2 linked regions of the Homo sapiens genome follow. The protein of the gene in region 2 binds, or shares a complex with, the protein of the main gene of each other region. Each region holds a gene or a part of one and is shown on either strand. Other genes may lie near its edges.

Region 1 (3,844 bases), on a different chromosome or scaffold from region 2:
GCTCATTGATGACAAGGACACAGTTCGAGGTTGGACCCGTTATCCTTGGCAGCCTCCAGGCCTCTGGCCTGCCCGGATTAGGGAGAGGGAGTAATAATACCCATGACAGATGGCAGCGCGCTGTCTTTCACTGTCCTAGGCCAGGAGGAGACCCCAAGCTGGGAGCACATCTTGTTCACCTGCTGCCACAATCGGCACCTGGTCCTGCCCCCGACAAGGAGACGGCTGCTCTCCTGGAGTGACAACTGGAGGGAGATCTTAGATAGCAAGCGCGGAGCTGCGCAGCGGGAATGAGCGGGGATGCCGCGGGCAGCAGCTGGAGCTAAAGGAAGGGCAGGCCCACAGGGGCCACCGCAGAGCCGAGTCGGGGCGGCATCGTGCTGGTGCCTCTGGCCCCGTGGAGTGGAGCAGGCAGATACCGTTAAGCGCTGTGCTACCGGGCCCCAGGCCCAGCCACCCGGTACCTCCCGAGAGGCTGTCCCTGGACCCTGGCTGGCATGGAAATACAGTGGGAAAACCAGTCGGGACCTTTAATAAAAGACCTTGGCTTTCTAGTCTTCTAGGACCCTTTATTTGGGAACATAAAGGGACAGGCTCCCTGAGCGGGTGCTGATGAGCCCTTCCCTCCCCTCTGAGTCCAGTGGTCCCCTAATCTGCCCCATTTCCATGCCCACGTGGGTACCATTTTTGTAGCACCTGCCATTCCTGGGCCATCTAAGGGGTCAGCCTTGAGGGGGTACACGAGAGGCAAGGACCCCCATTTTCCCTGAGCTCCACCTTTCCATCGGATCCCACGCTCCTTATGTTGACCAGGGGGCACCATGGACATGGAGCCACATCCTTTACGTTGCCGTCTCTTCCTGACTCCCTTGAGCAACACTCACTGCGTCCCTGATGCCCTCGTGGGATACACTTCTGGGGTAGGGCTCCCCATCATTGAGTGACAGCAGAGGAGGGCCGAAGCTTTCAGCCGGGGCCATGGGGTGGCAAGGGGAGAAGATGCAGTTACCAGGGCTGGTGCCTCTATTCCGACGTATCATCACCTGCATGGCCTTGTGCTTGATGCCCGATGGCCACATTAAGTCCCTGGGCTGTCACTCAAGGGCAGGGACCACATCTTCATCTTGGAGTCATGGTGCCTAACAGCAAGGCTGGGTGGACAGTCAATGCTGGGCCACAGGTTATCCAGGTTGGCATCCACCAGGCCCAAATGCCCAGCTTGGAGAGCCCCTGGGGGAGGCATCCATCCTCCAGAGCCCTGGAGGGGGCACCACATCTTCCCAGGGTGAGATCCTTTCACCACGAGGCATCTCATTCCTATACCTGAAAACTACTCCAGACACTTCTGTTAAGGGATAATCCCTGATTTCCTGCAGCGAAGGCAGCTCTCCTAAGCCTCAGGCCCAGCTCCTGAGAACACTGTCCTGCAAAGCCTCTGGGTCCAGGCACTTGGCCGCTTCTTACACCAGGGCCTGAGTCTGGTGGTGGTGGCACCTGATGTAGGATTGAGAGTGCCAGCCTATGAACGCAGCTCCAGTTTGATCTTCTCCGTGTCTCTGGAGTCTGGCTTCCTCACTCCCAGTGGCGTTTCATCAGTGTAAATGCCTGTCCTGCTGAAAGAACCCGCCTTTCAGATGGCTGAAAAGGCACCAATGGGGCAGTATGTGCTCCCCGTTCCCTGCGTCCACATCAGGACTGTGGTCTCCAGCAGTAGGGGTGCCACGGTCTCGCAGTCTCCATGGATCAGCGCTGCCGTGGGGCCACGCTCCTCGGCAGTGGGATACCCAGGGCAGAGTGCGCCTGCCGGCTGCGGGCCTCGGCCACCTGGCGGGGGGAGCAGAAGTCCTCCAGGAAGATCTGTGCCAGGTTCCGGAGCCTGGCGCTGGCCGAGAGGGAGAAGCGAAGCATGCACTGCACCACGGGCGTGGCGGTCAGCTCTGGGAGAAAGCTGCGGCCCGGCGGGCTCAGGTGCATGAGCGTGGTGATGGCAGACAGCACCGTCTCCTCATTGGGGCTGGATAGGCAGTTGATGATGAGTGGGACACCTCCTGCGTGCAGGATGTGCTCCTTGTTGGCCCTGTCTGGGCACAGGTTGCACAGGCCTCCTGTGGGAGAGCAAGGAAGAGTCTGGATGCTGTAGCCCCGGGCCTCCTCCCACCTCCCCTGCCCGTGAGCCCCAGGTAGGGGCCCAGGCTGTTGAGAAGCTGGCCCCAGCACAAGGCATCCAAAGCCCATTCCGGCTCCTGCCTTCTCAAGTTTCCAGAAAGGCCTGCCTGCCTGCTCCAGCCTGCCACAGCCCACCCTTCCAGAAGTGGGCACAAATCCCTTTCCCTCTCAGTTCAGCAAGTTCAATGGCTGATACGCTTTTTTTTTCCCCTTTCTTAAATGTAAAAACCTAAAACAAGGCCGGCCCGGGCACGGTGGTTCACGCCTGTAATCCCAGCACTTTGGAAGGCTGAAGTGAGTGGATCACCTGAGGTCACGAGTCCGAGACCAGCCTGGCCAACATGGTGAAACTGTCTCTACTAAAAATACAAAAATTAGCCGGGTGTGGTGGCAGGTGCCTGTAATCCCAGCTACTTGTGAGGCTGAGGCAGGAGAATTGCTTGAACCTGGGACTCGGAGGTTGCAGTGAGCCGAGATTGCATCACTGCACTCCAGCCTGGGCAACAGAGCTAGACTCTGTCTCAGAAATAAATAAATAAATAAAAAACTAAAACCCTGTAATGTATCATCACCTTAGAACAGTTTATAAAAGTTATAAAAATATAAGATGATGGTTTCATGGGTATATACTTATGCCAAAATTTATCAAATTGTACCCTTTAAATATGTACAGTTTATTATGTCCATCATATAGCAATAAAACTGTTAAAATACTAGAATGGGCTGGGCACAGTGGCTCACACCTGTAATTCCAGTGCTTTGGCAGGCCAAGGCAGGAGGATCCCTTGAGCCCAGGAATTCGAGACCAGCCTTGGCGACATGGCAAAACTCTGTCGCTACCAAAACACACACAATTAGCCAGGCATGATGGTACACGCCTGTAGTCTCAGCTACTTGAGAGGCTGAGGTGGGAGGACTGCTTGGGCCCACGAAGTGGAGCTGCAGTAAGCCATGAACGCACCACTGCACTCCAGCCTGGGCGACAGAGTGAGACCCTGTCTCAAAAACAAACAAATGGCTGGGAGCGGTGGCTCACGCCTATAATCCCAGCACTTTGGGAGGCCGAGGTGGGTGGATCACCCTGAGGTCAGGAGTTCCAGACCAGCCTGGCCAACATGGTGAAACCCCGTCTCTACTAAAAACACAAAAATTAGCTGGGCCTGTGGCACATGCTTGTAATCCCAGCTACTTGGGAGGCTGAGGCAGAATAGCTTGAACCCGGTAGGTGGAGGTTGCCGAGATGGCACCACTGCATTCCAGCCTGGGCAACAGAGCAAATACTACGTCTCAATGTTAGGCGGCTGACCTAACATTTGTTTTTCATTCTACAATTTGAAATATGTGAATATATGTAAGTATTTAGTAAAAATGGGATACTCTGCTTGCTGCTTGGTCAGTTTTCTGAGATGGGGTGGGATCTCCCTATGTTGTCCAGTCTGGTCTTGAACTTCCGGCTTTAAGCCATCCTTCTGCCTCAGCCTCCCTGGGAGTTAAGACTGACTCCAGGCATGCACCACTGTGCATGGCTTACGCCAGCTTTTTTTTTTTTTTTTTTTGAGACAGTTTTGCCCTGTTGCCCAGGCTAGAGTGCAGTGGCATGATCGCGGCTCATTGCAACCTCCGCCTCCCGGGTTCAAGTGATTCTCCTGCCTCAGCCTCCCAAGTAGCTGGGATAACC
Region 2 (5,936 bases):
AAGGCATTAACTATGGAAATGTGTATTTGGTCATTATTGATGGCCCACTTGAGATATGTGGTTATAGACCAAGAATGAGTCCAGTCAGTGGAGCTGTTTTTCTTTGGTAACATTTTATAGCTTGACTACACTCAAGCTGTACGGAATGGGCAGTGGAAAAGATTTGAGCTTAACCCTGGTTGGATGTCTGTCAGGTAAGTAAAAGGGCACATGCATGAAATTCTGCATCTTTCATAGGGTTCACAAACACATTATGGTATATGAATTAATGCAACAGAGGATTCAAGAACACTGTAATACAGGGCAGCATGGAGCAGGGAAAGAGATTTTTTTTTAATGCTTTTCAGAATTTGATACGTATACCTAACTTGAACACAATAGTTGAAGCTTTGCCAGACAGGTCGGTAGGGGCTTTCTCATCTCCTTGTACTAGTAATTTCTTCTTGGCCTTTAGAGATGGAACAGCATCCACCTCTGATTTTTCTTGTTAGAAGGCATATCAGAATCTCTCAGGAATGCAAGTGTAGTGTTCTTTTTTCTTTATTTAAGTTTACGAAATACATGCTTATAGAAAATTAAAACATTATAGAAATATGTAAAGCCACCCATGAAAGTTCTTCCATAATTCTGCTTCCTAACAAAGCCACTGTTAGTAATGTGGTGTTACTTATATTTTAGAGCATCAAGTTGTCCACAAAAATGCTTGCACAACTTTTTTTTTTACCCAAGTTTAGAAATCTTGCCCTAATAATCCAGACATTCCTCACTCTCTTAACGAATACTTAGAAACAAATTGCATAAAGGTACCATCTATTAAACCAGTCCCTTACTGACAGGGCATTTGGGCTAGTTTTAAGTATTAAAGAACAAAGGTGCAATGACTTTGCTTGTGTACACTTGTCAGATCATTCCCATTAGGCAGTTTCCTAGGAATGAACTTAGTAGGCCAAAAGGTTCAAAGTTTCAATAAATCCCAGAAAACTACATTCCTAAAGGCTGTGACAATTATACTCCCACCTATGGCATACAAGATGGGTAATGTAATTGGAAGTGCTTGTTCAAAATCATGGTGCAATTTTTTAATTTGGAAAATTTAAAAAATTGACTGTTCTTATAACTGTGTTTTCTAATTATAGAAGGTGAAGTCTGACAAATCTTGATTAATGGGGAATCAGGATCCCAGGGCAGGATTTATAAAACTTGTATTTACCAAAAAGAGGCATCAGTATTAGAAACTTTAAAACTTCTCTTTAAAATCTCCGCAAGATTGCAGCCCTTGCTACAGCTTTAAATAGCTGCACTGGTATCTCCAGTTATTTTCCCCAAGTTTCAATACCAGTATTGGTATCCTACTAGTTGAGGAATAAAATCCATACTTATATGAGCTTTCCCCAGAACAAGCCAGCTTTAGTCCCATTATTCGACAGTAGCAGAACATTCTTTGTCCCAGAACACACCGCACACTTTCTTGTGCCTGGTTTCATCACTTTATGCCTCATCTCTTTTCCTTCTTTGTCTTCCTTCACTTCAAGGTAATCTCCAATGCCACTTACTCTATGAAGTCTTCCACAATCCTTCCTGAGAAAAATAAATGGTCTTATCCCTTCTGTTCCCCCAGCATTTCACCTGCACCTCTGTTACAGAATTTCTATACTAAGCTACCAAACTGGAAGTCTTAGAGGATAGACACATCTTACTTGTCTATTTCCTGAACAGTATCTAGTGCAGAACTTTGTAGAACATACACTCAAAAACTGTTTTTGGAATAAACATACATAAATTAAGACTTCAAATCTTTTAATCTCAAATTATTAGTCACAGATGTTATTTTTTAAAGGACTAAAAAAAAACTACTGCTCCTTCAAATGTCCTAATTATCGGTTTCATACATTTTTTTTAAAAAAGGGGGTTTTCTAATAAGACTGTCAAAATATTACATCTAGAATAGTTATGTTCAATAAACCTGCATTTACTTGATATCTGCATCTTCCTAGTATCACAAATTGTTTTAGAAATAAAAACACAGGGGTAGGGGACAGGGGACAGTTTATTGTAAAATATGAAGCAGCAATGATTGAAGCAAGTGAATTTCTCCTTTATATTCCCAGCCAGAGCACAAAATGACTGGATATCCTCATGAACGCCAAGCTTTTTTTTTTTTAATTAAAAAGAAAAAAAAAGAGAGAGAAAAAATTCCACATTCATTAAAATCTCTTTCTCTTGATAATTTCTGGTTTCCAGCTGACTGGATGAGTTTCTTCTGTCTAAAAATAGAAAAGTGAGTTAAAATAAAGTATTATTAGTTTGCTTCATGTCTAATAGGCTTCCTTTCTAACAAAAATAAGGTATCTAACATTATTCATTGGCTTTATACACTTAGTTCTTTGACAGTTTTAGGAAGAGTTGATAAACTTCTGGCATTATCCAAGTCTAATAACAGATGGATGGATTCATTATGTTTAGTTTGTAGTTTTCCATCTAAAATAACATTTCTACTTGGATATTCTACTAACACCAAAGCTTATGATTCTCGAATTAATTTACATAGCAATCTATTTATTTGCTGTTATTCTTGGTGCAACATTTCCCAGCAACTATAACAAAGGAAGTTGGGATAAAATTAAAGCCATCCATGGATTCACTGGCATCAGTGAAACAATATAGAAATATATAAATGGACACTATTCAAGAAGACAGATATCTTAAATACTATAAAGATTATTTTTCCTTCTGATAATTAAATGAGAATATGCTGCCAAATTGGTATAGCTGTTTTACTTAACGAATGTGAAACACAGAACTTACGGCTGTGTCATCCTCTCTGTATACTTTAATGGTTTTATCAGCTTCAGCTGTTAGTAATCGACTTTCAGACTGATCAAAAGCACAAGCAAATATTCCTGATTCACTGTCCAAAGACCCAGGTTGCACAGCTGCGTGAACTCTCTGAAAATTGTAGCCAGTTCTCCAGTCCCAAAGATGCATGGTGCCATTGTCAGCTTAAAGGGAAAAATCTAGTTACACCTGGTATCCCCTCAGCAGTACAGCTTGACAAACATTTATGAAGCATCATTAGCCCAAGCATGGGAATACTACGGTTATAAAAATACATAAGACACAGGCACTCCACCTTCTCTTAATATTGGTTTGTCTACTTTCATTTGGGCTGGGTTCAGAACTTATAGATCTTAAAAAGCACCTGAAAATCTGACATCCAATTCCAGAATAATAAACAAAATTTTAAGCAATTCCCAGCATAAATCCCTGAGATTCATTAGATGGGAACTCAAAGAGGACTAAGCTATGAAATATACTACATGTAATATGAATATGCATGAACACACATAATAACATGCAAATATGCCCTAACCAGGCAAGTGCTGCTATAATACTTAAGTGTGACAGCTTAGAAGCATTACAAATGTTTATTCATCATTAAAAGAAAAAATAACAGACTAAACATATTTATTATAAAAATCTTATTTTACCTCCAGATACAAGCACTCCATCAGAATTTACCGTCAATGTGTTAATAATAGCATTATGACCGGAAAGATTTTGAATGAAACTTCCATCAGGGAATTTCCACTGCTTTATGTTATCTGGAGAACCAGATGCAAATGTGTAACTGAAATAATATTAAAAAGAATTAACGACAAAGTAAACCAAGTTAAATAAAGTGGTGGGTTTTAAAAAGTTTATTTCAGTTATATTTTGCAGTGTGTACTCAATGATTTATATATTCAGCAAAATAGTCGTATCAAAATGTAAAAATATTAAGACATTTGTTCAAGGTTAAATCAGACCTTCACATTTTTAACAGTATATTTTAAGTCCTAGATTAATGTTTTGTTCTCCTTTCATTTCCTTAATGCTCTGCACTAAGCCAGAGCAATAAATGTGCAGAAGCCCTATTTCACATGAAGGGCAATGTGTTATGCAACTCTTTTGGAGGGAGGGAGAGCAAGACAGGACAGGAAGAAAGAGAGAAAAGGAATAGAGGGCAAGAGGAAGAGAGAGAACAGGAGGGAGGAGAGGCGAAATGGGAGTGAGAAAGATAAGCAAAGGAAGGAAGAAGAGAGGGGGAAAAGGGTATGGAGAGTAGAAGACAGAGAAGAGGAAAGGAAGGAGAGGAAGAATCCAGAAAAGTGTCAGAGTGATCTGATACACCAAACAATAGTTGTGATATTATGCTCCACCTTTTTGGATACTCTGACTGTAATGTTCACGGTTCTTATTATTTCTGTTTCTACATATATTAACTTCCTCCTTAAGAATTAAACTATTCAATGAATGTCTCAGTGTCCAAAATCATTTATGTCCAAAACATTAAGCCTAGCCACTAATATCTTTTATTTTGACATGCAGCATTTAATCATGATTTACACTGTCTCATTTGACATTATTTATTTGTTATCAAGTAGAAGGCTTTCCTCATGTTTTATAGGGCATGAAGCAAAATAGTGCATGAGGAAAATAAAAGAAACACACGTTCCTATGCGGCACAGGCCTAGAAATGACAGCAGCTAAATGACTGCCAAAAGCAGTGCTAACACCACTAGCATTTCAGCATTATCTTAAGAACTGAAGAAAAACAAGAAGCTAATTAGGAAAATACACTTACTGTCTTGGATGTAAAACCACAGCCCTAACTGATTTTTTGTGATTTGTTAATGTCACTCTTGTTTTTCCAGCCACCAGATCCCATAATCGAATTGTAGTATCATGGCTTCCTGTAATGGAAACACATATATCCCTCAAAACATAGACCAGGAAAAATAATGCAAAAGTTAAATAAAATACAAAGCATTCTTCCAAAACACATATGTTCTAAATGAAAGTCATATCACACGCAAATTAGTCTTGGCTAATTTCTTCATAGTTCCAAATTTTTAGGTTGATTTTAATTCTTTAAAAAAATGCAATACAACAATTGATTCACTGTCAATTGAACAGCTAAAACAAATGCAAATAACAAATAAATATATAATTGTATACCCTAGTGAAAAGGAAAAAACTTCAATGATTTTTTTAAGTTAATAAAATACATCAGGCAAAGGAATTATTTTCTAGTATTAAAGATCCATTGTTACTAACTTTATTTAGAGCAAAGTAAGATTCAAATCAGTTCTAAAGATTACTAGTCTCAAGATGTTTTGTCTTCTAACTTCAATTTCTTAGAAAAATAATTTTGACACTATAAAATAATAATTGTTCATAACACAGTATTCTAGTCAGACATTACAGGATACTATGTATGGCATACTCTATGATATGTAAAAAGCATGAGGTAAAAACAGTGGAATGAAATTTCATTTGAATACATTTCAATTGTCCATGATTAAAATATGACACAGAAACACTGTAAACACAATACAGAGCAAGAGTCATCATGAATATTAAAAGTATATGTATAATAACATGGATTCTGACATGAATATTCTGTAAACTTGAAAAGTATCGATCATACCTGTAATAATTTGTGGTTCTGCAGCCTGACATCTCACTGTAGCAACTGCATTTGTATGTCCAGATAATGTGTGTACACTGGCTTTAGTTCTCACATCCCAAATCTATAAAAACACAATAGACATATTAGGAAAGAGAATAGGTATTCATTATCTCAAGAAGATAACTGGATCAATTCAAGGCTGAAAATTTACTACATAACTAGTGCCTGAATATAATAAAGAAAATGCTTAAGTGAAAGATAATGATTTACAAACTGGAGGACGAATATAAATAGGAGACAACTTGCAAGAATTCTAAAAAGCTAAAAGATCAGGGTACTGAAAATCTAAGAATGAGTATGATGGGACTACTTTTTAAGACTACTGAATGAAAGAACTAATGGACAATAGTTGTTACAGAATGGAACGTGAGAATATCACATTTCAGGGGCAGGGCACTAATAACACTAACATGGTGAGGCCATA

What was found.
Region 1: PLRG1 (region 2) and ARMC7 share a complex: the UniProt entries of both Homo sapiens proteins name them as parts of the minor spliceosome.

Annotation. Positions count from the first base shown.
Region 1 is NC_000017.11:75,126,938-75,130,781, reverse strand, and holds the end of ARMC7 (armadillo repeat-containing protein 7), read right to left. Parts: intron 2,106-3,844; coding exon 1,744-2,105; 3' UTR 510-1,743; downstream 1-509. Other genes in the region: NT5C (5'(3')-deoxyribonucleotidase, cytosolic type), read left to right, coding at 1-29, 140-294. UniProt on the Homo sapiens protein: As a component of the minor spliceosome, involved in the splicing of U12-type introns in pre-mRNAs.
Region 2 is NC_000004.12:154,534,481-154,540,416, forward strand, and holds the end of PLRG1 (pleiotropic regulator 1), read right to left. Parts: intron 5,574-5,936; coding exon 5,471-5,573; intron 4,734-5,470; coding exon 4,625-4,733; intron 3,629-4,624; coding exon 3,489-3,628; intron 3,000-3,488; coding exon 2,806-2,999; intron 2,265-2,805; coding exon 2,205-2,264; 3' UTR 525-2,204; downstream 1-524. UniProt on the Homo sapiens protein: Involved in pre-mRNA splicing as component of the spliceosome. Component of the PRP19-CDC5L complex that forms an integral part of the spliceosome and is required for activating pre-mRNA splicing.